Regions from separate parts of the Homo sapiens genome. Here regions 2, 3, 4 and 5 are each reported to be linked to region 1. Evidence: microRNA targets listed by miRTarBase, many of them from high-throughput screens and not tested one by one. Region 1 holds a microRNA gene; each other region holds the end of a gene's coding sequence.
The links. Region 1 holds the annotated microRNA hsa-miR-711 (GGGACCCAGGGAGAGACGUAAG, at 1,480-1,501, shown strand). A microRNA usually pairs through its seed, bases 2 to 8, with sites in the 3' UTR of a target mRNA and lowers its output. Matches are read on the target gene's strand: a 7mer-m8 pairs with bases 2 to 8, a 7mer-A1 pairs with bases 2 to 7 and ends in A, and an 8mer does both.

Region 1 (5,000 bases):
TCATGGTGCTTCCAAAGCTCTCCCAAACTGCTGCCTACCTTGAGTGGCCCTGACCCCTGCCTTTCTGCAGGGCAGCCCTGGATCATCTGGACCCAAGGGTGACCGTGGGGAGCCGGTGAGTAGGGCTGGTGTCCTGGGCTCAGAAGGGATGGAGGGTCCCCTGGCGCTGCTGCCAGTGTGCCTTCACACAAGGGGTCTGGAGGTCCAGGTGGGAAGCATGGATGGCCACCCATGCCTGCTGGGGGCTGGCATTGGGGTGCTTCGGGGAACTTGGGGGCAGAGTTGAGCCTGGGGCAAACCAGAGCCATGGCCTGGGACCTGAGGGCTCCTATTGACTATAATCATTTCCTTTCCCAGGGTCCCCCAGGACCCCCGGGACGGCTGGTAAGGGCTGCGCTGGGTCTGGTCCTCTGTCATTGTTCTCACTTGCCCCTTTGGCTCCACATCATGTCCCCTCATTCCTTCCACTAACTCCCACTTCCCCCACTGTCCCTCTGAAACCTCCGCGGATCCCTGGAGCCCCTCACAGACCCTGTATCCCCTCGCCAACTCCTCTTCCCCTTGTTGAGCCATTCTTCTCACTGGTCATTCCCCCCACAGGTAGACACAGGACCTGGAGCCAGAGAGAAGGTATTAGGGTCTGTGGGTGGAGGGTAAGAAAGACCCCAGTGCCCCTCCCAGCAGGTTCTACCTTGGGCATGGCTTGGCTTCAAGGCTGTTCCTCAGCAAGCTTATCTCTGCCACAGGGAGAGCCTGGGGACCGCGGACAAGAGGGTCCTCGAGGGCCCAAGGGTGATCCTGGCCTCCCTGGAGCCCCTGGGGAAAGGGTGAGTGTGATTGGTCCTCGGGGGTGCAGGCATGGGAGGGCCTGCTCTGATTTCTTCCTCCCCTATCCTCAGGGCATTGAAGGGTTTCGGGGACCCCCAGGCCCACAGGTGAGTGATGCACTTTGCCCCGTCTGCCAAGTCCCCATCTTACCCTCACCTCTTATCTGACCCTGTTCCCTCCAGGGGGACCCAGGTGTCCGAGGCCCAGCAGGAGAAAAGGTGAGAGGGTGTGGGGGTTTCTCAGGACATGAGCCTGGGTTATCAGATCCACCTCAGCCTTGGTGGCCTCTTACCACTCTATTTTCCACAGGGTGACCGGGGTCCCCCTGGGCTGGATGGCCGGAGCGGACTGGATGGGAAACCAGGAGCCGCTGGGCCCTCTGGGCCGAATGTGAGTCTTGGTAGTCCTGCCTGGTTGTCCCCTTCCCCTACCCCTTCACATGAGGACCCTAGACCCCAGCCTCATTGGTTGGTCTTGGCCTTGACGAGCTCTGGGGCGAGACCTGTTGTCTGTGTCTTCTCCCAGAGCCCTGCCTGGGTGGGGCATGTTCTTGCCATGCAGGCCTTAGGCTCACAGGGACTAGAGCCCCTGACCCCATGACCATGATGAACTGACTTTGAGTCTCTCCTCAGGGTGCTGCAGGCAAAGCTGGGGACCCAGGGAGAGACGTAAGTGAGGGGAGATGCTGGGACAGAGGGGGCTCGGGGCTGCGTAAGCTCCAACCAGATCATCATAGTCACAGCATCCGAGAGAGTTGGTGGGGGGTCGGTTCAGCCTTGCCTTTGGGAGGGTCTCAGTCCCTGGCACACAGGTTTTAGTAGAATCCCCCTTTCTGACCTTCTTTGCCTTGGGGGTCTTCATAGGCCCTCCAAGTCCTGGGGGTTCTTCCCTTGGGAGTCTCAGCAGGGGCCCCCATCCATGGGGTCTGTGCCTGAGGGATCTCAATGGGACCTCTCAGTCCTGGGGGTCTCTACCCTGGAGGGAGATCTTTTTGGGGTCCTCTTAGTCCATGGGGTGTGCCCCAAGGGATATCTCAGAGGCCCTATAAATCTTAACAAAGACTTTTTCCAGGGGCTTCCAGGCCTCCGTGGAGAACAGGGCCTCCCTGGCCCCTCTGGTCCCCCTGGATTACCGGTGAGACCAGACTTTCATGTTACCCCCTTTTCCCCCTTACTACCCTCACCCGATCCCCGACATCCAACCAGTGATCTGTTCCCACAGGGAAAGCCAGGCGAGGATGGCAAACCTGGCCTGAATGGAAAAAACGTGAGTGTGTCCAGGGCAGCTGCGGCGAAACCTGCCAAGAAACGCCAGCACACCTACACAGCCAAGATCTGTAGCAACACATGAGGCACACGTGTAGACACATGCATCCTGGCCCAGACATACAGATGCATCCAGAAACATAGTTTTTTTTTTTTTGAGATGGAGTTTCGCTCTTGTTGCCCAGGTTGGAGTGCAGTGGCACAATCTCAGCTCACTGCAACCTTCGACTCTCGGGTTCAAGTGATTCTCCTGCCTCAACCTCCCGAGTAACTGGGATTACAGGCATGCGCCACCATGCCTGGCTAATTTTGTATTTTTAGTAGAGATGGGGTTTCTCCATGTTAGTCAGGCTGATCACAAACTGACCTCAGGTGATCCGCCCGCCTCGGCCTCCTAAAGTGCTGGGATTACAGGCGTGAGCCATTGCGCCAGGCCTGGAAACATAGTTCTATATGCACACACAGGCAGCCTCACAGACACATAGGGAGTTAGGTGAATGGGCCAATTTATGCCAGGATGGGCTGACACATGCCCAGATAACCCACAGCCATAGGCACAGGTGAAGAGCCACAGACAGGTCGACAGGCACAAACACACTGGTGTGTAGCCACATTTGGGGCACTTAGAGACATGTTGATACCCAGACACTTCCACCCAGACTCATGTGCTAAGACATGGACCCAAGACCGCATGTGGACCTGTGTTGAGACATGGTGAGACACACATGGATGGCTCTGACCTGTGACATGTGCTAGGACATGCTGGCCCATGACTTTATATGGTCACCCACACGCTTATGGTCATACACATTGAGCTACACACAAGAGTTGCAGACAGATGCCAAGACACATGGCTCTCAAGGCATGTATAAGCCCATGCTCTTTGGAGACATGTATAAGCCCATGCCCATATGCAGACATGGGCCAAGATGTGCAAACAGACCAGGACACACAGACCCATGGGTACATGTACTAAGACACACATGGATATGCACACACCCAGGACATGTGGACGATCACCAACCCAGAGATGCATAAATGTGGAGCTACCTCTAGAGAGCCAGAGTCAAAGGACATGTGTGCAGTTGCCTGTTGGGGTGAGCAGGCCTATGCAGGCACACCCTTAGACATGTAGCAGCTCACTCAGACGGCCACAGGCCATGCTCCAAGACACACACAACCATGGAGCTACAGGCACAGAAATACAGTCACAGTCATCTGAAATCTAGCAAGGTAGTGTCTTGCAGCCAGACACCAGTGAATGTTTGGGCTGATGTGAGTCCTCTGCCCACAGGGAGAACCTGGGGACCCTGGAGAAGACGGGAGGAAGGTAAAGTCCCCCACCTGGGGTCTCTCTGGTCTCTGCTTGGAGCCATGCCTGAAGCATCCTTGTCTTCCTTAGGGAGAGAAAGGAGATTCAGGCGCCTCTGGGAGAGAAGTGAGTATTGGAGTTTTCTGCAACCTCTGACCCCTGACCCTGACCCTGGGGGAATATGACTCCACTCTTTTCTGAGGTCTCAGGGTGCTGATGCTGGCTGCATCCTTCACAGGGTCGTGATGGCCCCAAGGGTGAGCGTGGAGCTCCTGGTATCCTTGGACCCCAGGGGCCTCCAGGCCTCCCAGGGCCAGTGGGCCCTCCTGGCCAGGTGAGTGTCCTGGGTCATTCTGGGACTTCAGAGCATTAGAAGCCATGATGTTTCAATGGGCAACCCTCCTGGGAAGCCATGGGCCTTTGTGACCCCTTTGTGTTCTGCCGTATCTCAGGGTTTTCCTGGTGTCCCAGGAGGCACGGGCCCCAAGGTGAGTGCGGATGTTGGGTAGGGGGCGTGGTGAGGGGGCTGACCAGGCTGGGGGCCATTTCCCCACCTGGTCATTCTTGTTTTCAGGGTGACCGTGGGGAGACTGGATCCAAAGGGGAGCAGGTGAGGCCCCCACCTTTTCCACATGCCCAGGTAGCCACAGCACCCACATGTGCACATGCACACCCATAGGCTGGTTCCTAGCAGTTTGTCTTCATCTCTCCAGGGCCTCCCTGGAGAGCGTGGCCTGCGAGGAGAGCCTGGAAGTGTGCCGGTGAGCCAGGCTTGGGATGTCCCCTTGACTCTGTTTTGCATGCCCATTGGGGCCACCTTGCCATCCCCTTCCCCTTGCCATGAGGCTCCATAGGTTCTGTGCTGTGTGTTCAGTGCCCTGCCCCATTGGGGTTCTTGTAGCCCACACTCAAGGGAACTTGGGCAGTGGGGACACACCAGAAAGGGGCTCCCAGGAGTCTCCAGCCATGCCTCAACCAAGTGCTAAAGGGTGCTCTGGGCAAGAGGCCTAGGGAAAAGGGTGTGAAGGTGCTTTCCTGAGGCCGTGCGGGGCAGAAGGCAGGAGCTTCTCTGTCATGGGCAGCCCTTCACCCAGACTTTGTCCCCAGAATGTGGATCGGTTGCTGGAAACTGCTGGCATCAAGGTGGGTTGTTTAGGGGCTGGGGGTAGGGACAAGTGGGGGCCCTTGGGGCTAGTGGTGCCCACAGGCATAGGGGCTGCGGCGACGCACCCCGCTCCTCTGACCTCTTGCTGTCCCTCAGGCATCTGCCCTGCGGGAGATCGTGGAGACCTGGGATGAGAGCTCTGGTAGCTTCCTGCCTGTGCCCGAACGGCGTCGAGGCCCCAAGGGGGACTCAGGCGAACAGGGCCCCCCAGGCAAGGAGGTGAGCAGAAGTGGCTCAGTGGGTTGTGCCCCGTGGAGTGGGGTGTAGCTGTACAGCCACCAGCATTCTCTCTTCCACTCCTGCAGGGCCCCATCGGCTTTCCTGGAGAACGCGGGCTGAAGGGCGACCGTGGAGACCCTGGCCCTCAGGGGCCACCTGGTCTGGCCCTTGGGGAGAGGGGCCCCCCCGGGCCTTCCGGCCTTGCCGGGGA
Region 2 (5,126 bases), not on the chromosome of region 1:
GCTATGTTGCCCAAGCTGGTCTCAAACTCCTGGCTTCAAGAGATCCTCCCACTTTGGCCTCCCAAAGTGCTGGGATGACAGGGATGAGCCCTCGCGTCTGGCCTCTTTCCTCTACTTTCTCTCCCAAGGACACCCGCTGCATCAGGCCACCTGCCTCTCACCACCTTTTGTCCCTTCCCTGTCCTCCCTCACTTCCCTGCAGCCAGACGTTCACATCGGATGCGGCGACACCACCACCACCACCAACACCACCACCAGCATCACCACCACAAATCCCGCAAGGAGCGCAGAAAACACAAGAAACACCCAACGGAGGACTGGGAGAAGGACGAAGGGAATTTCTGCTGAAGAACCAGAAAAAAGAAAGCACAACACCTTTCCCATGCCTCCTCTGGAGCCTTCGCCTGGGGAGACAGAACCCAGAGAGAAACAAGAGAGTCCAGAAGTCCCTGAACCCCAAACCACATCCCCCACACACATAATCCTTTGTACAAAGCTCCTCTTTTCCCTTTTTTTACATACACAAGATCCTCTTGGCAGGTGGAGCCAGGTGTCTGAAAAGTTCATTCTCGTCTGGCTGAACTCTGGGAGTGTGTCCCAGCTGAGGGAAGCACAAGTAGCAAAGCTCATTGGTCTGGTCTCTTGTTTGCCAGGCTGATTGAAGCAGGCCTTGATGAGGGTGCATGAGTGTATGTTTGCATTCACATGAAGGAATTGCTTTTCACACCAGAAATTCAGACTTAGTCAATGTTGGCTGAATTCCTAAATCCAGGAAGAAGCCTGGACGTAGGGTCATTAGCTTTGGGAATAGAAGGCTACACAGAAGCACACTGTTTTTGAACTTGACAACAGCTCTCCCTTTACCCTGGACTTCAGCCCAAGTTCCGTCTTTGGTCTTGGTGGATAAACACACAGTGTGGAGATCCCACGTACTGCATTTTAGGGATGTTTTTAGGACAACCTCCCTCCATGCCTTCAGAGTTAGGAGTGAGAATGATCAAAGCAATATGTAGGTGATGGAGGGAGAGTGTATTGCTAACCCTTCCAGGTCTAGTCCAGCGCTGAGATTTGGTGGTTCTGCATGTGTGATGAATCTCTTTCACACAAATAGACGAGAGGATATTTAGGGCTAGATGAGCCCAGATTTCTTCCCCCTCCATCTCTCAGGGAGACAAAGAACCTCCTTCCTGGACCAAGGAGGTGCTGCCAAGTTTTCTAGCCCAGTGCACATACCCAGTCCTTAAGCAGACATTGGTAGTGCCCCTGCCCTGGGTCCCACTCCTGCCCCACCCCACCCTTGTCCCTGGCCATTGCCTGGTGGTCTAGAAACACTTAAAACTTGAAGTAGTGACACCTACCTGCGGTCATATTGTAGAGAGATGCTCAGTGTTAAAACTGAAACACACAAACACACACACACACACATTTTTCTCTTGTAGATTTTAATTTTTTAAGTGGGAAAGAACTCACCTTGCCTTCCTCCCCCAAATGTGCAACCTGTAAAAGGTCTCTCCACACCAGGGGCCAGGATCCAGTTCCCTCATCTCTGGCAGGAAAGATCCACAGCTTTTCCTCCATGTCTGTTACTCACTTTCAGCAGTCCGGGTAAAATCTGTGGATCAGGGTTAAAAAAGCACCGTGGAGAATGGCCCTCTTCAGGAAAGAAAAATAAGCAAATGAATGGTCCACCTAGGGGTTCAGTAAAGAAAGAAATGTGTTAACTGAGCCTGAATCCCTTCTGGGAAGTAATAATGACCATTGACAACTAAGAAGTAGACACCATGCTAAAGACTTACATACAATCTCCTTGAATCTTCTCAATAGCCCATTGACTTAGAAACTGTTACTTTCCCATTTTACACACAGTGAAACTGAGGCTCAGATATAAAGGAAAGGTACTGGCTTGAAGTCACAACCACGACAGGAGTAAGGATTTGGAATAAGGATTTGGTCCTGTTTTCTGGACCAAATCCTTACTCTGGCTCTGCTTACACTTTCTCTCCATCACCAAATCCTTACTCCAAATCCAGAAGTCAGAGCCAACTCCCATCTTGGTTCTGACCCAAATCCTGCTCTGGACTCTGGAGAGGAGATTGAAATATAATTGCACCCTCATACACATTTAGGAAATGGTTAAGAAGTGTAAACTGAACCCTTATCCTTGTCTTCAATCTTCCTCCCTGTAGACATCTATCTTATTATGGTTATTATTCAGAAAACCCAGGGATACAGGTTTGTCTTCTTACTTTGATAACTCTTCTTAGTTTAAAATAATAATAATAACACATCTTTGGTCATCTATGTCACACAAAAATTTTCCTTTGTTTGCGGGGGGCTGGGGATGCAGTGTTTTTTGGGGGGTCTTGGTTTATGCTCCCTGCCCTTGAGCCCCTCAGCCGTTTGCCCTGCCCCCACCTCGGCTCCATGGTGGGAGGGGGCTCTGGTCTTTTCTAAAGTGGGCGGTTTGTCTTTTGATCTTTCCCTTTTGGATGTGCGTGTGTGTCTGCGTGTGCCATGTGCGTGGCACGCATATGAGTGTGTGTGCGTGTGAACGGCTTTGGGTCCTGCTGGTTTTGCTGTGAGCTGCAGTGTTCTGTGGGTCTGTGGTATCTGACACTGTGGACATTAATGTACTTCTTGGACATTTTAATAAATTTTTTAACAGTTCAACCTGCCCGTCACCACCTGATACCTTCATTCATTCATTCATTCAGCAAGTATTTACCCGAGCAGCTATTGTGATCCATGTACTGTACTGGGTGCTGGGGAGATAGTGGTGAACAGAGAAGGTTTGGTCTTTAGTGGGTAGTCACAGAAGGCTTCCCCGAGGAGGGGAATGGAATCTAAAGAAGAAGTCGCATTAACTAGATGAGGAGAGAAAGAAAGGAAAGGCATTCCACTCAGAGGAAAGAGTGAAAGCAAAAGTCTTCTTGCAGAAGGGAGCGGGCGCAGTGGCTCATGCCTGTAATCCCAGCACCTTGGGAGGCCGAGCCAGGCGGATCACAGGGTCAAGAGATCGAGACCATCTTGGCCAACATGGTGAAACCCTGTCTCTATTAAAACTACAAAAATCAGCTGGGCATGGTGGCATGCGCCTGTAGCCCCAGCTACTCAGGAAGCTGAGGCAGGAGAATCACTTGAACCCAGGAGGCAGAAGTTGCAGTGAGCTGAGATGGTGCCACTGCACTCTAGCCTGGCAACAGAGAGAGACTCCGTCTCAGAAAAAAAAAAAAAAAAAAAAAAAGAAGGGCTCACTCGAATCAGTAGGAAAAAGACAAATCCATTAGCCAAGCAGGCAAAAGATATAAAAAAAAGTTTACAAAAAAGGAAATAGCAGCTCTAAAACTACAATATAGACTCAATAAAATAATACACATTTTGCAAGAACATCTAGATTCACAAGGAAGGACATAAAAATATAAGAGAATAAACAAATGTATCAAAAGATGGCCAGCATGGTGGTTCACGCCTGTAATCCCAGCAATTTGGGAGGCTAAGGTGAGCAGATCACATGAGGCCAGGAGTTCAAGACCAGCCTGGCTAACATGGTGAAACCCTGTCTCTACTAAACATACAAAAATTAGCCAGGTGCGGTGATGCGCACCTGTAATCCCAGCTACTCAGGAGGCTGAAACAGGAGAATCGCTTGAACCCAGGATGTGGAGGTTGCAGTGAGCCAAGATCACACCATTGCACTCCAGCCTGGGTGATAGAGTGATCTCCATCTAAAAAAAAAAAAAAGATCCTTGCATATATCAAAGATGATAATGTGCTTGAACTGTGAATGATTTACGATTTGCTCGACCGCCTGCACCTAAGGTCAAAGTTGGTGGTGGTGGTTGGAGATGTTCAACCTCACAAATAGAAACGCAAGCAACAACCACATTGAGATACCATTTTTCACCTATCAGATTGACAAAAATAAAAAGTGACAAGACATGAGGCTAATGAGGATGTGTGGAACAGGTGAGTACTTTTTTTTTTTTTTGAGAAGGGGTCTTGCTCTGTTGCCCAGGCTGGAGTGCAGTGGTGCAGTCTCACCTCACTGTAACCTCCGCCTCCTCAGTTCAAGTGATTCTCCTGCCTCAACCTCCCGAGTAGTTGGGATTACAGGTGCCTGCCACCATGCTGGGCTAATTTTTGTATTTTTGGTAGAGATGGGGTTTTGCCATGTTGGCCAGGCTAGTCTCGAACTCCTGACCTCAGGTGATCCACCCGCCTCGGCCTCCCAAACTGTTGGGATTACAGCCGTGAGCCACCATGCCCAGCCAGGTGAGTATATCTATTACCTGTGGAGTATAAATTGGCCCCATCTCTAAGAAAATGTGGAAATCACTATGAAAACGGCGAGTTTTAGTCTGGGCACAGTGGCTCATGCCTGTAATACTAGCACCGTAGGAGGCCAAGGCAGGTGGATCACCTGAGGTCAGGAGTTCGAGACCAACCTGGCCAACATGGTAAAACCCCATCTCTGCTAAAAACAGAAAAATTAGTTGGGCGCAGTGGCAGGCGCCTGTAATCCCAGCTACTTTAGAGGCTTAGGCAGAAGAATCGCTCGAACCCGGGAAGCAGAGGTTGAGGTGAGCCGAGACCGTGACATTGCACTCCAGCCTGGGCAATAGGAGCAAAACTCTGTCTCAAAAAAAAAAAAAAAAAAAAAAAATGGTAAATGGGGAGTTTTGACCCTTTGAACAAACAGCTTCTTTTTTTTTTTTTTTTTTTGAGACGGAGTCTCGCTCTGTCGCCCAGGCTGGAGTGCAGTGGCGCTATCTCAGCTCACTGCAAGCTCCGCATCCCAGGTTAGGCCATTCTCCTGCCTCAGCCTCCTGAGTAGCTGGGACTACAGGTGCCTGCCACCACGCCCAGCTAATTTTTTGTATTTTTAGTAGAGACGGGGTTTCACCATGTTAGCCAGGATGATCTCGATCTCCTGACCTCGTGATTCGCCCACCTCAGCCTTCCAAAGTGCTGGTATTACAGGTGTGAGCTGCCGTGCCCGGCCTGAACAAACAACTTCTGATATCATCCTCCAGTTATACTTGAACTTGTGAGTGATGATGTGGATACTTACTTCTAGCAGAAACATATTGAGAACAATATAAATGTCCACCATTAGGAACCTGACT
Region 3 (5,126 bases), not on the chromosome of region 1:
ACAGTGTATAGTTATTAAGTGATCTTTCCACTGGTTGTCTTAGCAGTTTGGGTTTAGTTCCTATTTTTATTTGGCCATGACTGATAGAGCTGAGTGAAGGAAGTATAATACAGCCAACCTCAAAGACTCCATCATGAATACACTTGTCAAGTGAGATAAATTTTGCAGAAGTCTTGCTCACTCCCTTACTTGGATGACTCCTGCCAGTTCCTTTAGTACTTCGCTGTGTTATCCTCTCTAGAAAACTCTTCTTGATATCTCCTCCCCAAAGAATGTGCTGTGGGATGGGATCCCCAGGATACAGATTCTGAGATGAAACTGTACATGAAGGGGTTTTATTGGAGGAAGTGCTCTTAGGAGCAACACCTGCAAAACACTGAAGAAAACCAACAGGGCAGAGAAAGAAGTTGAACTGCAGTGCAGTTGCGAAAGCAGTCTCCACTAACTCCTGGGGCTATGAAACTGAGATGGCGCTTCAGAGATTCCGAAATCAGCAGCCGATTGTGGGCTGCTCCCAGGGAGGGTGCATAAACTTAGGTGAGACAGCTTCCTTCTGTAGAGCGCAGAGGAACACAGCTGTCAGCTGTCAGCAAGCACCACTTCCAGCAGCTGCAGCAAGAGTACCTCTCTGCTGAAGGGGGATCATGGTGATACACCATGGTATCTACTACGATTGATCCAGTAAAAGTCCTCAGGGATAGGCCGGGCACAGTGGTTCACGCCTGTAATCCCAGCACTTTGGGAGGCCGAGATGGGTGGATCACGAGGTCAGGAGATGGAGACCATCCTGGCCAACATGGTGAAACCCTGTCACTACTAAAAATACAAAAATTAGCTAGGCGTGGTGGCGGGCTTCTGTAATCCCAGCTACTCGGGAGGCTGAAGCAGGAGAATCGCTTGAAGCCGGGAAGTGGAGGTTGCCGTGAGCCGAGATCGCACCACTGCACTCCAGCCTGGCAACAGAGCGAGACTCCGCAAAAAAAAAAAAAAAAAAAAAAAAAAAAAAAAAAGTCCTCAGGGACCCAACACCCTTACTTTTAAGCCCACATCACAGTGCATTGGGATAGCGTATTTACATCAGCCTGAAACTGTGGGCTTCAGCGTCCAGTACAGTAGGCACTTGATAAATGTTAAATTTAGTGGAGGAAAAGTATTTACTTGTTTCCCATAGCGATCGTAGTAGGCATAGAATTTAATGTGTCATACTGTCCTCTGAAACTGGGGTTTAAATAGTTTTGTTTTCCGTCCCATTCTGGAGAAGCTGTGTGACTTGGGTTCTGGAGTGAAAACCCTGAAGGACACATGCTGGGCAAAGTGAAAAGCCTCAGAGTACGCCAGATGAACTGATGACACACAGGAATAGAGAAACACATGTTGAGAATGACACTGCCCAGGAACACCACGCGGTCATGGCCAAATGCTCCCGGGTGTTGTTTTCCCTCTAGCTATTCTGTACTCAGATGTGACTCAGATGCTGGCATTCAGTGCAGTTTTGTTTAGCTGCTGCTGCTTCCAGGAGTCCCCCAAAGTCAATAGGCCATTGGCTTACCACCAGAGTCAGGCAAGGAAAAGAGTGGGAACGCAGCAACATCAACAGGAAATAAAACATTTTTATTGAATATCTGTGTAATATGTTAAGTCATTTTTAACAACAATCAGAAAACTACTGTGGAATTCACTACACAAAGTGAAACAAAATTTAAATCACCTCATCAAAAATGAAGGTAAAATACAGCTGAAATAGTTGGCTCGCAGGCCACGAGCCATATGGCAGAGGAAAACACCCCAACATTTCTACAAGATACAGGGAAAACCCACACATAGAAACACTCAAGCAGGCAGTAAATATACACAAAGGCAACTAGGATCTTTCTAGAGCATCAGATTCTAATACTTTACACAGCTTTGTCAGAAGGGTACATGTGGCTTATTTGAGGATGAATCTTGGTCATAAAGCAGGTTCCATCACTGACTTGTGAAAGAGTGAAAGATGGCATAGTACCAACTAATTCTATGGTGACAATCCCATGTCTGGCAGTGTTGCAAGAGAATGCATTAGTGGTATTTTAATGCAAGAAATAATGTCTATTCAGCAGCTTGAACCTGCTTGTTTGAAAGTGTGGTTTCATTGTGAACAACTTAAAGCTGAATACAGTGAAATTAAATGTCATTTGTGGTATTTAAATACTTTTTAAAAGCCAGTCAACTCCCTCTCTTTGGTAGGGTTTGGCCCTTTAAATTGGAAAGAGTCTTGTTTGAATTTTCTGTTCAAACCATTATTTAATTTCACATTCTGACTTGTGTATATTTTCTATTACCTATGTTTTTTAAGAAGTACGGACCATCGGCAGACGGTTATTTTCCTTTTATCCTTTATGTCTATGCCAATTATAAAGCGTTTGCTATGTCTGGCCTAAAAGGCAAAAGAGCTTGCCCCTTCTTTGATAAGGAAACAGTAACGACAGGAATTCCAGTTTTACTGGGAAACAGCCAACCCCATGTTCAAAGCCTACCATCAGCCCTTTTTGAATTCTCTTTAGTTTTTGAAAAGACGTGGTGTGATATCCTGAAGACTGAACATGAGGCCAATGCTTAGTTTTCCTCCATTTTGTTTTGATATTTGTGAAGACAAACTTTCATTTCAGAGCATCACTACTGTCTTGTGGCCTGGAAATTAAAATGGATCACAGAAGTGAATGGGACAAAAGGCTAGATGCAGTGTGGGATAATAGGCTGCCCTTCCACGAAATGGTTGTCTACCATAGTGGGGAAAAATATGGAATATTGCACAGTGCTTGACAAAATGCTGTGTTCCACCCCATTCTATGTATCTTCCTTGTCCTATGCATAGCTTTTCAGTTCTGAATTGGTCCTTTGTAATGAGAACTGTTTGTGCTACACACACCTTGGGCAGTGCAGTAGAAGGGAATGGCAGTATTGTTACAATATCACTACGGAATAAATTGAGTGCTATCCACTGAGGAAACTACGGGTCTAAGCACACACGGCAGTCACAGTGTTACACAGAGCAGTCCTTTAAGACTCTTATGGAATGACTAGTAGCTTCATAATAGTGTCATTTACTACATAATAACATTGAAAACGTTTAAAAACTCCTCCTAAATCAAGCATCTAGTATACATAAGAGGTTGCTTCAGTTTTCTAGAACTTGTTCTTGGTTTGTTTCACCTTTTTTTAAAGGACAAATTAAAACTTAAGTAAAAAGAGCATATAAAAAGATCACTAGCTGTCTGTTTTGGCTTAATTGAAGTGCATTCAGAACTATGGCTAATTGTTGTTGGTTTTTGTTTTTGTTTTTCTTTCATCTTTTGATGGGATTACAATACTGTCTGTTTACCACAAAGTAATTTTGTGTAATAAGCACAGATTGTTGTGTTAAAAATATCCTGCATTCCTTCTAACCTGGTTTTATATAATAAAATATTTTGTTACAAACTCTAATGTGCAAACCTTTTGGAATTATTGTAGGTGTGAAATCTGGAACAGAATTCACAGGATGTACATTTTGTATAAAGGTGATAATGGAGAGCTACTTTTTTCTTTTTAAATAGTCAGGCAATATTTCATAAATGTTGACTTCTCCCCTTAGCTTCTTCTCCCCCATCCCCAAACAAATGTGCACACACACACACACACACACACACACACACACACGGAACACCTTGTTGTTATTCTATATGCAGTAATATGAAATCATTGACTCCTGTTCAGTTGCTTCCTCAAATATAAGAGTGAAGCCATTATTTTAGCTTTGTAAATATGTACAGACAGGTGCTATTCTGTTTTGTGGCTATGCTTCCTTGAGGTCAGCCTGGATGCTGCTGCTCAGATCATGCTATTTTGCCTGTGTAGGAATTCTACAAAATTGGATTCACCCACCAAGTATGTGGTGTAAGTTTATCTTGGTACTCAAATGATTCAATAGAAAGCTCAGGTTTAAGTTGTCCTTTAAGATGTCAGTTTAACTGTACTAGTGCCTTACGAGTTGATATTTTTGCTGGAATGCAGACGATACTATATTTACCGTATAATATATTATCAGCTCTCCTATATCTCAGTCAATTTACATAGTTTAAAATAGAACATCTTATTAAAAACATCTAGATATACACAGATTAGGAAACGCTTACAACATACAAATACACAAACTAGAAATAAATCTTTAGCATACTGGTATATACAACAGTGTGATACAATAAATAATTTCATTCATGCTCTATCTACACATCATATTGCTTAAAAGAAGAGTAGATTTGGAGGGCAGTGGTATGATGAAGGACTTAGGGGCTCTCTACATTTAAATTTGTGCAAATTAAAACAGGATTCCAAGTACCACTGAATTGTGTTAGGAATGCATGGCTGGAAAAATGAAAGGACCCATATTACTGAGGTATTTACAGATACTGGCTAAAGAGCACTATATGGGCAAATGCAGAAAGGCTTCTTCTTTCCTTTACTTCTTGACGGCCAGCATGGCATCAACTTCCTCCTCTACCTGCAGGGTGTGCCACTGGGCAATAGGTCGCCTGGGGTTGGCCAGCATGTCTGACCAGTGTCGCAGCTCCGCGCCGGTGCTGTTGTAGCCCACAAAGACTTTGCCGATGGCATCGTTCTTGCCAATCTTGTCATAGTCCAAAACAGTTACCACCACCTGCACTTTCTGAAAGAAGCCATGAAATGAATATGAATCATCTAGCTCTAGAGATAAGGCCCGACTATAAAGCGTCCTTGAGCGCTAAAGAATTGGAAATAGAAGAATCAATCTCCAAGCACTAGGATGAGGATGAAAATGACTTGAATCTTAATACTCAAACGTTAATTTTTATTATATACTTTGCACTAAGTCTTTTACATGAATGAACTCAGTTACTTCTCATAATAGATCCTATTAATATTGCCATTATACAGGTAAGGATGCTTGAAGCTCTGAGAAGTTATATAACCTGTCTGAGGTTGTTTAAGGAATGAGTTGTTTGGTTTTCAGAGCCTATGCTGTGAACCTCCATGCCATGGAGTCTGTGTCAACTTGTGCTAACCTCTAAATTCATTTGCTTCAGTTGTCTTATCAGTGAAAGTTCTGGCATTGGTGTTCAGCCCACTCTATT
Region 4 (5,126 bases), not on the chromosome of region 1:
ATGAAGATTAAATTGCTCCTCTTGAAGTTTGGTTTAGTTCTTAAAGCTAGGGGTGGGAATCCTATCGCCCTGCCCAAGGAGCACCTTTCAGAGGTGGTGGAGGGAGGGGTGAAAGGGGTGTTGAAGGGGAAGAGGAGGGATGCTGTGGAAGGATACTGGGCCCACCCTGGAGCTTCCTTGGCACCTGAGGGAGAATGAGGCAGTGATGGGGCTGCAGAGGCCTATGGGGCGCTCTGCCCCAAGACTGTCAGGCTGGTGTGAGTGAGCTCTCCCCTCTCACACCTGGCCCGGGATTCTATCAGGATATTGATCTTATAGGCTGTGATTTCCTCTGGCCAAGAATCCTTTCTCTGGAAGGCCCTGCAGGAAAAACCTCTCCTCTCCACTCTACATGTAGCTGGCAATACATGGATGGGAATCCCAGGAAGAGGGAGAGGAATTTAGCAGGGACCCGCAAACTAAGTCTGCGGCCCCAATTTCACAGACGAGCTGAGCCAAGGTCACGCCCAACGAACCTGGTTTCTTCCCCTCCTTCAAACGAGGCCTAAAAACAAGGACCCGAGACAGGGCACTTCAGCCTCGATGTAGGGAATGGAGCGAGAGCTCTAGAAAAGGCGGATTCCTTCAGGGTGTCCCCACTCCTTGACACCAACACACAACAGTGGTTACTGCCACTGTTGGAGGGAAGAAGGGCTGGCACCCAGCAGCACCACCATATAAAGTCTCAGGAAAGTGTGTAACTCTACCGATGGAACAGGACATGAAACAGAATCACATGTGTTAGAAGGGGTAGAGACTGCAGCTCCAGGGTTGAGTGGGTGGGATCTGGGGTCAAGTCCTGGATCTACCTCTCACCATTTGGGAGAATAGGGCAAATGTATTTATTTTGGTGGGAGTAAAGGGGATAGGATGTTTCTTAATCTCTTTAAGCCTCAGCTTCTTCATCTTGCGTTGTTGGAGGATTAAATGAGATTTAAATGAGTGCAAAGTTCAATAAATCATACACATCAATTCTCCAACAGCATACACATTTCAGGCATTTTAGGAGCCCCATCTCATGAAGGAAATCCATACTACTGTGGCAGATGGGGGTGGGGAGGCACTTTCCACTCAACACCTCAGTTCAACTCTGGCCAGTGGCACCTGCCGGGGTGGCTTGGGGCTTGCCACCTGGAGGCCCAGCTCCAGGGACACCCTTCACAGAATATCCTGTGGGAACGGCACCCCCCTCCAAGCACAACAGGGCCCCTTGAGTTTTCAGGTATCAAGACAGGAGACGACACGACATGAGCAGTGGGCTACCATTATTAAGCACTTAGTGTTTGCCCAGCATGGTACAACAATCTGGTAGGTGGGTAGTTTATCTCCAATGACACATGGGGACAAGGGGATAAGTTATCTTGCCCAAAGTCACACAGCCAGTGAGTGTTGGAAGCTGGATTCAAACCCAGACGTCAGATTCCAGAGTCCATTCTCTTCAAGGCTGGACTTGACCCCACCCTGACCCAGGGCCCAGATTTGAGGGCTCTCTCTGAGCCCACCTGACTTTCCTCCAGGGTCAAGGCTGGCTGGGTCCCCTGGAGCCCTCTCCTCCACCCCCACACCCAGAGGACAGGCTGCATCAGGGGTCTTCCCACCCCCACCCCATACCAAGGCTGCTGGAGAGGAGCCTGGCCCAAGGTGGCGCTGCCCCTCTTGGACCTCCAAGAATGCCGCATGGAGCAGCCCCTCAGGGCTGTAGTCCCTCTACACCTACATTGGGCCCCTCCAGCCTGGACCCCCACCCCTCCCACTTCCTGGCTTCCCATCCTTCAGGTCTCGCAGAAGCCTCCTCAACACCCTCCCTGCTTGGTCTCTATCCTTCAGAACCCTCATCACAACCTGTCCTTGCCTCTAGAACGGAAGCCCCATAGCAGCAGGGACCACGTATCTGTTTTAGCTTCAGTTTCTAGCCCAGTGCAGCATTGTGAAAATCCTTAGTAATATTTTTAAAAAGTTTTCGAATTCTACTTTTCTTTGCTGACTTGGCATGTGCTTTCTCCTCTGCCCGTAACCCCCGTTCCTCCTTATTTCCTTGCTAACACCTACTCGTCTTTCAAAGCTCCATGCCACTGTCTCCTTGAGGAAATTGTTCCTGTGCCCCCAGTAGGTAACACACCAGACAGAGGCGAGATTCTCTATCCCGCCCCAGACAAGGAGCCTTTGCTTTGCAGGGCTCCCCTTGGGACCCTCTCTTGCCAGGAGAGCCTCTAGAGAAGCCATCTAGAAGGGCATTCAAGACTCAGCAAGCTCCAGCTCCCAGCCTGGCAGACTGGGTGGGGGAGGGCCCAGCTGGTGGGCGAGGCTGGTTTATCGATGTTGCCGAGAGCCCTGGGGAAATCAAGGTGAAAGGCAGCCACGCTGCTGAGGAGGCCCACCCGTTTATCAACCAGAGGGGCTGGGGCCGGGCGAAAAGAGGCTTGGCTGCCAGAGGCAGCTGTGAGGTGGGAGGTCCACACCACTCCGTGGACCTGGAGGCTGGGCTACACACTGTGCAGCCCGGGCTGCTGCGACAGTGTTTCCAACATGGCGCTAATTCTAGGTAACTAAGTTTGGCTTTAGAAATACCGTCACTGGAGCCACAGGGCTTGCTGACAGAAATCCCCAGCACTTGGCATTGGGCAAGGAGCCCTTAGGGGGTGAAGGGCAGGCTTATTCAGCGGCCTTGGTGCAGTGGGCACACAGGGCACCGGCCCTGGGAGCCTCTGTCTTCCTCTTGCAGGCCAGGGTTGCCTCCTGATTGTGGGTTCCTGTCTGTCTCTCAGGCCCCCAGCCAGGGCCAGCCCAAGGGAGCAGGGGGTGCAGAGCACAACCAGGAGGATGGAGCCAATGGGTGCCTGGAGCAGGGGCACAGAGAGGGAGTCCAACCCAGGAGCCCAGCAAGGCGCTGCAGCTAAAGAGGTCGAGGGAAACATGCAGGGAGACTGCCATCCCTCCCCAGCCCCAGCTGCCCCATAGCAGGAGTGGCCTTGGCATCCCACCTGCTCCACATAGCACCCAGGCCATCTGAGCAGAGTGAAGATGTCAAAGAGAAAACCAAATCGGATTGAGGCTCCTGCTCCCCCTTAATGAGGTTCATTATCAGCAGCTCTGATCCTTGTAAAACCCAGCAGGCCGGATTAGGGGCAGGCTCTCTAATCCTGGCTGACTCCTCCCCACCGAGTGGCCAACCCTGCAGCTCTGACAAACAAGCCCTTGCTTCCTGGAGGAGCTGGAATTAGGCAGGTGCAGACAGGCTTCTCCCTCACCAGCCCAGGGCACTGAGGCAGGAGCTCTCAGGGAGGATTGGGGCAGGGGGTGGCAAGGCTGCACATCCAGAGGCCTGTCTCCGTGCATGAAAAGGCCATGGGGTTTGGGTGCAGACAGTTCTATGGGCAGTCTGTGGCCAGGAGCTGTGTGTGCTGAGGGACATCGAGTCTGGCTGCATTCCAGGTGAGGCTGGTCTCTGTGCATTCTGTCCAGACTGGACACTAGGTCTCCAAGTAGCAAGTTAAAGAACACACCAATGCTTGCCTTAACAAAAATAATTTATTCCACACACCTCCCAAGGCAGGGGGTAGCGTGGGAATCAAGCATGTGTAAGGCACTGCCCCCGCCAGACCCTTCTAACTTCTGCACACTGGAAGGTGAAACCTGGAGAGAGAAGACACTCCCCTCCCTAGCTTCTACCTGGCACCCTCCAAAGATGAGCATTCATCTTGGAGACCAAAATAAAAAAGGACAAAAGACCAGGCTCAGAGGGAGCAGAGCTCAATGGGGGGAAGTGAAAGCAGCCATCTTCTCCTGCAGCTAAGCCAGGGCAAGGCACTAGAGACCCACATCCTTCCCATGCCACCAACTCGTCAGGTCCCACCAAGCAAGCCACTCACCCTACAGCCCAGCAACCATGGCTTGCCTCACCTGGGAGACCAGCACGACTTCCAGAAGCTTCCAAACCCCACCCTGAAGCCAAACCCCACCCAGGAGGTCTGAGGAGCTGGAGGCTGGCCAGGCATAGAGGGCCCGGGGTGGTCCTTCCTCCCAGGGTGCAAAGGCTTCTTCATTGTCCGGAAGGGAGCAGGGTGGGCGGAGCCCCAGCAGCTAGTGAGGAGTTCCATTCCAGCCCACCCAGCTGGGGGACCCTCCTCTGGCTTCACTTGCCCCAGTTGAGGGCCAAGACCAAGCAGGAGAGACTGAGGCTCCAGTGAGAATGAGGCAGGACTTCAAATAAGCTGAAAAACAGGAATGTGGTGCTAAGAGGCCAGGGACTGAGCTGCCCTATGCCCACTGCCCGGGGCTGCCCTCCCTGCACAGCAGGGGAACCTGGACCCTGCTCCTGTCTTTTGTGTCAAAGGAGCTCTCTGTCCTAGCAACCCCAAGAAGCTTCACTGGAGCAACTCGTTTTCCTGAATTTCCCACACTTCTAGGCCAGACAAGGAGCAAGGGGTGGGAGGGGAGGGAATGGGGTCAGGGGGCTTGAGGTGCCTAGAGATGGCAGCTCCCTCTCCCGCCTCCTCCCCAGGTGGTTCAGGCTGCAGGGTGGCCAGCATGGCCCTTCAGGGCCCTTATCTTGGCCTGGAAGTAGGTGTACATGGCCAGCAGGCCCATGAAGGACAGGGAATAGAGCCCCACACAGAGGCTGATGTCCAGGTAAGAGAAGCCCCCTCCCAGCACCTGCAGCCACTGGCCTCGGCCCCGTCCAGCTCGGGCCTCCAGCTGGCCCTCAGGGATGTCGACCAGCTGCTTGGAGCTGCGGCCCACGCGCCTGACCTCCAAAGGGCCCCAGAGGCGGTTCTTCTCAGCCCTGGACTCAGCCAGCAATGCAGCCCCTGTGTCTCGCTTGCTCAAGTGCCACTGCCCAAGCGGCTGCTCCTGCTCATTCCTCTGAAGCTCTGCCATGTGCTCAGGAGGCTCCTGGCCTGGTGCAGCTCTGAGGCCAGGGTGCAGCTTCGGGGGTCGACTTGCCTCAGGTCCCTCAGCCGGCACATGTGGGGTGGTGTTTGTGGGGGACTTCATCATCTCAGGCTTCCCAGGGTCCAGAGTTGAATTCCGGCTTTCCAGCTCCAGGGCTCCCATCGCCAGCTCTGGGGCGGCTGCCACATTCTGCA
Region 5 (5,126 bases), not on the chromosome of region 1:
CAACTGCGGGGGCGTTGCCCACACAGGCCTTTCTCGGGGGTTAGACTAAGGAAAAAGGCTGGGCCTATCCTCTTTCGGAGGCGGAGCCAACCAGGGGCGTGGTCAGGTAAACGTCCATTAAGTACTTTTGGTAGGTGCGTGGTCAGCTGAAAGTATGGACCCCAAGCTGTCATATCAATGAGGGTGGAGGCAAGGGGCGCAGCCACTGGGACAGGTTGGGGCGGGTGTGGGTGTGCCGCCGTTCAGGTAAGCCCTTGGTGGTCTGTATTGATCAGTGTTGGTTCAGCCGTAGCCCTCTTCGGCAGGCGCCCTTGGCCTACCGCTAGCCCTCCACCCGCTCTTACCTGCCCCCCAGGTGATCGGAGGTGCTGGACTGGACGTGGACTTCACGCTGGAGAGCCCTCAGGGCGTGCTGTTGGTCAGCGAGTCCCGCAAGGCTGATGGGGTACACACGTGAGTTCAGTCTTGATGCCTGCCTGGGTTCAGTTACAGCCCTGCCCTTCCCAGGCGGCCTCAGGTTACCGCCCTGACTGCCCCGCTGAGTCGGCTGGCTGGCCACCCTGGGTCATGTCTGTGTGTCTGTCTGCCCAGGGTGGAGCCAACGGAGGCCGGGGACTACAAGCTGTGCTTTGACAACTCCTTCAGCACCATCTCCGAGAAGCTGGTGTTCTTTGAACTGATCTTTGACAGCCTCCAGGATGACGAGGAGGTCGAAGGATGGGCAGAGGCTGTGGAGCCCGAGGAGATGCTGGATGTTAAAATGGAGGACATCAAGGTGTGTCCAGGCTGCGCTGGGGCCACTCCTTCCAGATCTCTAGGATTCACCTGGGGTGCCCCCCTTGGGCTGACCCAGCCTCCCCTCCGTAGTTGTGCCCTCCAACTGAATTATAGTAAGAGTAGCAGCTCTTAAAATAAGTAGTTCATTTCAGGCCGGGCACGGTGGCTCACGCCTGTAATCCCAGCACTTTGGGAGGCTGAGGCGGGTGGATCACCTGAGGTCAGGAGTTTTGAGACCAGCCTGGCCAACATGGTGAAACCCCGTCTCTACTAAAAATACAAAAATTAGCCGGGTGTGGTGGCGGGCGTCTGTAATCCCAGCTACTCAGGAGGCTGAGGCCAGAGAATGACTTGAACCCAGGAGGTGGAAGTTGAACCTGGGAGGCAGAGGTTGCAGTGAGCCGAGATCGCACCATTGCACTCCAGCCTGGGCAATAAGAGCAAAACTCCGTCTCAAAAAAAAAAAAAAAAAAAAAAGTAGTTCATTTCTAGGTATAAACCCTGGTGTAAAGGTTTAAGGAACTCATATCATAAATAACTCATACCGTAAATCTCCAAACCACCTTGTGAAGCAGACCCTGTGCTCAAGTCATCCCCATTTTACAGGTGGAGAAAGTGAGATACAAGATGGCTGAGCAACTCACGGCCACACAGACCAACTAGCAGAGTTGGTATTGAACCCATGCTGGTTTCAGCAACTATGCTCTTAACCACAAGCAAATATGTTCTGTACATTTATTAGTATTTTAATTAACTACTTATTTATTTATTTTCTAACAGATCTCTCTTGGTCACCCAGGCTGGATTGCAGTGGCACGATCTCAGCTCACTGCAACCTCTGCCTCCCAGGTTCAGCCAATTCTCCTGCCTCAGCCTCCTGAATAGCTGTGCCACCACGCCTGACTGACTAATTTTTGTATTTTTAGTAGAGACAGGGTTTCACCATGTTGGCCAGGCTGGTCTCGAACTCCTGACCTCAGGGGATCTGTCTGCCTTGGCTTCCCAAAGCTCTGGGATTACAGGTGTGAGCTACGGCGAGGCAAGGTCTTGCTGTGTCACTCAGGCTGGAGTGCAGTGGTGTGATCATAGCCCATTGCAGCCTCAAACTCCTGGGCTCAAGCAATCCTGCCACCTCAGTGGGACTACGGGTGTGCACCACCATGCCTAATTTTTTGTTTTCTGTAGAGACGAGGTTTCACCATGTTGGCTAGGGTGGTCTTGAACTCCTGGGTTTAAGTGATCCTCCTGTGTTTGGATTACAGGTGTAATCTTGCTTCAGCCTCCTGAGTAGCTGGGATTGCAGTTGCACATCACCACCCCTGGCTAATTTTTTGTAGAGATGGGGTTTTGCCATGTAGCCCAGGCTGGTCTCAAACTCCTGGGCTCAAGCGATCCTCCCACCTCAGCCTTCCAAAGTGCTAGGATTATAGGCATGAGCCACCATGCTCATCCTTGTACATTTATTTAGGCATTAAATGTTCACAGCAATTTGGAAGCTTATAGAAGAGGAAACAGGCTCAGATAGGTTAATTAAGTTGCTCATGGTCACAGCCAGTGAGTGGCAGGGTGAGGATTTGAACTTAGCCTGAACAAGTCTGTGTTTGCAGCTGTACCTCCCAGGGTTAATACAGCCTCCCTCCGTATCCCCCGGTTTTTTTGGTCTCTGCTCCCTGATGGGTGGAGGGAGGCCTGACCCTTCCCCTCCCGCTGCCCTGTAGGAGTCCATTGAGACCATGCGGACCCGGCTGGAGCGCAGCATCCAGATGCTCACGCTACTGCGGGCCTTCGAGGCACGTGACCGCAACCTGCAAGAGGGCAACTTGGAGCGGGTCAACTTCTGGTCAGCTGTCAACGTGGCGGTGCTGCTGCTGGTGGCTGTGCTGCAGGTCTGCACGCTCAAGCGCTTCTTCCAGGACAAGCGCCCGGTGCCCACGTAGCCCCTGCCATGGAAGGAAGAACGGGACAAAGGAGGGGCAGCAGGGTGTGTGCATATGAGACTTGGGGGTCCCTCCCCAATTTTAGTTTCCTGCCAAAACGGGAGTGTGCAGTCAGGGCCTGCGGTCTGGCCCCATGAGTCTCCTTCCGTCCTCAGCGGGCAGGGAACACCTCTGGCTTGTAGAAGGGACGGCTCAGTGGCTGCACCGACGGTCCTGGAAATCTCACATGGTGGGCACTGCAGCGTTGGAACGTGAGCCTCGGATTTCCTGGCCCCTCTACTGTAAATGTGCCTTAGCCTAAGCCTCCCATCCTGTGTTAGCGTTGCCTGGTGCGGGGCAGGGCCTAACAAGGAAACCTGGGCCCTCCAAGCCAGGTTGAGGTCTGGTAACAGAATGCCAGGAAGGGGGCCTGGAAGACCACCTGCCCCGGCCCCTCTCCTGCAGGGGCCCCACACAGGCATGAGGGATGGCCCGGCCAAAGTCTAGGCAGAAGCCTCCTATAACAAAGGGTGGTGTGGCCTGGGCATTGGAGTCAATAAATTATGGTCAGAAAATCACAAGAGCCTGCTGATTGGGGCTCAGGGACACCAGCCAGGACAGACCGGCCCCCGAGGGGGCAGCCAGACAGGTGGGAGGGGCCTCCCACGAAGCTCAGAAGAAAGGTCGTGCGGGAGCCGATGGAGGTGGTCGCCTGGCACAAGAGAAAAATCAGAAAGCAAAGTTTAACTGAGCCCCAGTTGGGCCACGAGGCTTGGGCTTCCCCACGAGGTGAGAGAAGCAGGGCCTGAGGGTAGGAAGGGGGTGGAGCGCTGGGGTCCCCGCTTCACCAGGCAGCAGCCAGGCCTGTGCACGTGGGGGTGTGCAGGGGGTCAGAGAATATCTGCTCCCACTCCTCACATGCTAAGGAAAGTAAAAGCTCTCCCCTGTATCGAGTGGCTTCCTCTGAAAGGTGACACCCCCGAAAGCAGAGCCCTCAGGGAGATGGGAGGCACTTATGAGTGCAGGGACTTGGGCATCCTTATGGGAGGCCTGATGGAGGTGGCACCCATGTCCCCAGCCTGAACACTAACACAAGAGGCCCACACAGCAGCCACCAGCAGCGTCTTCCCTTTATTTTAGTTTATTAATAGAATACAGAGTGCAGGCACTTACAGTGGTCAAACTGAGCGAGGAGTGGGTGAGGTCTCCTCAGAGAGAGGCCGCCCTGGGCCCACCCATCAGGGAGGCATGGGCGGGAGCTGAGAGGCCCCCAAGACCCCCCGCCACCACCACCCACATAGCCCAAGCCCAGCCACCCTGGGGGACCCAGGAGGAGGAGGAGGAGAGGAATAGGGCAAGGCCGGCCCGGGCCAACGGCTCCGGGCCTAGCAAAGGCACCTCTGGCAGCCGAGGCTGGGCCAGGCTCAGGCTGTGTGGTTAATATGGCCGGGAAGGACTATGTACACCTCAGGCCTGCCAGCTGGGCACTACCGAGCCCACTGGGCCAGGCTTGCCGCTGGGGAGCTCCTGCTAATGGGAAGTTGATATACCCCTGCACCCCAGCAAGGCCTGGGGATGTAGGCGCCCTTGGTGCCCGCACTTATAGAAGGCCTGCCCTACATGGGCTTTCCCAGCCCAAGAAGACCTTGGTAGAGTCCCCCCCAGGCTGGACCCCTCATTCAGGATGGTGTCAAGGGTTCTGGTCCCCCCTCTGCCACCCTGAGACTCCATCCCCCAAAGTGCAACACCCCAGCGCCCCCTGCCTGGAGCTCCAGGGCCCCTTTGCGCAGTGCGGTGTCCAGCCAGGCACAGGGGCCGGCCCTGGACCGGGGCCAGCGTTAAGGAAGAGGCCAGGGCTGCCCACTGGGAGCCTGGTCCCAGCATAGGGGCGGCGGAGGGCCCCAGACCACTGAAGCTCCTGCGCCGCGGGTGCGTGAGGCCCCCCCGAGAGCACGCCCCCCTCGAGGCCTAGTCGAGCAGGGATGGCTCGGCTGGGCGGATAATGGTGGGCCGGCTGGGCGCAGCAGGGGGTCTTCTGCTGCAAAGAGAATAAAGACAGGTGGGGAGGGGGAGACGGCAGTGAGGCCGGGAGCAAGAGGCAGGCCTGGGTTGAGGACCCAGCCCCCACCCACACACCACCCCAGGGTGTTCCCAGGCTGACCTCCGCAAGCCACCAGGGTGTCGGGCAGGAGTGCCAAACCTAGGCATCAACTCGCCTGCTGTTTGACCCTCAGTGAGCCCCCTGCCCTCCCTGGGCCTCAGCTTCCCCACCGGAGAAGTGGGGAGAATAAAGCCTGGCCCACGGTAGGTTGAGGCAGGCAGGAGCAGGAAGGAGAAGAAGGTAAACAGTGGGAGGAGGTGCCCAGTGTGAGGGTTCCCCAGCTGCCTGGTGGCACACCCCAGTAGGCAGAGGGCAAGCTGGGAGCCCCGGAG

Region 2: miRTarBase lists NCAN as a target of hsa-miR-711. Seed matches in the 3' UTR shown: 7mer-m8 at 1,270-1,276 and 7mer-m8 at 2,559-2,565.
Region 3: the mRNA of SYT1 is a reported target of hsa-miR-711. Seed matches in the 3' UTR shown: 7mer-m8 at 4,395-4,401.
Region 4: miRTarBase lists QSOX1 as a target of hsa-miR-711. Seed matches in the 3' UTR shown: 7mer-A1 at 4,343-4,349 and 7mer-A1 at 1,774-1,780.
Region 5: the mRNA of DNM2 is a reported target of hsa-miR-711. Seed matches in the 3' UTR shown: 7mer-A1 at 4,361-4,367 and 7mer-m8 at 4,016-4,022.

The regions. Positions count from the first base shown.
Region 1 is chr3:48,575,415-48,580,414 of GRCh38, reverse strand. It overlaps MIR711 (microRNA 711), which reads left to right and starts at 1,438; the gene lies at 1,438-1,513. COL7A1 (collagen type VII alpha 1 chain) reads left to right here. Exons shown (of 119, transcript NM_000094.4): 56 at 71-115; 57 at 358-384; 58 at 601-630; 59 at 747-827; 60 at 900-935; 61 at 1,011-1,046; 62 at 1,138-1,218; 63 at 1,461-1,496; 64 at 1,900-1,962; 65 at 2,050-2,094; 66 at 3,388-3,423; 67 at 3,496-3,531; 68 at 3,644-3,739; 69 at 3,858-3,893; 5 more.
Region 2 is chr19:19,249,564-19,254,689 of GRCh38, forward strand. NCAN (neurocan) reads left to right here. Exons shown (of 15, transcript NM_004386.3): 15 at 203-2,670. The coding sequence ends at 348. Among named protein-coding and RNA genes, the nearest start is that of HAPLN4, 11 kb to the right of the region's middle.
Region 3 is chr12:79,448,473-79,453,598 of GRCh38, reverse strand. SYT1 (synaptotagmin 1) reads right to left here. Exons shown (of 11, transcript NM_005639.3): 11 at 1,591-4,681. The coding sequence ends at 4,475. Among named protein-coding and RNA genes, the nearest start is that of MIR1252, 32 kb to the right of the region's middle.
Region 4 is chr1:180,196,457-180,201,582 of GRCh38, reverse strand. QSOX1 (quiescin sulfhydryl oxidase 1) reads right to left here. Exons shown (of 12, transcript NM_002826.5): 12 at 1-5,126. The coding sequence ends at 4,546. Among named protein-coding and RNA genes, the nearest start is that of LHX4, 31 kb to the left of the region's middle.
Region 5 is chr19:10,830,583-10,835,708 of GRCh38, reverse strand. It overlaps DNM2 (dynamin 2), which reads right to left. Exons shown (of 21, transcript NM_001005361.3): 21 at 3,806-4,731. The coding sequence ends at 4,662. It overlaps TMED1 (transmembrane p24 trafficking protein 1), which reads left to right. Exons shown (of 4, transcript NM_006858.4): 2 at 356-453; 3 at 592-775; 4 at 2,496-3,642. The coding sequence ends at 2,714. Among named protein-coding and RNA genes, the nearest start is that of TMED1, 3.1 kb to the left of the region's middle. RefSeq lists an enhancer at 362-999.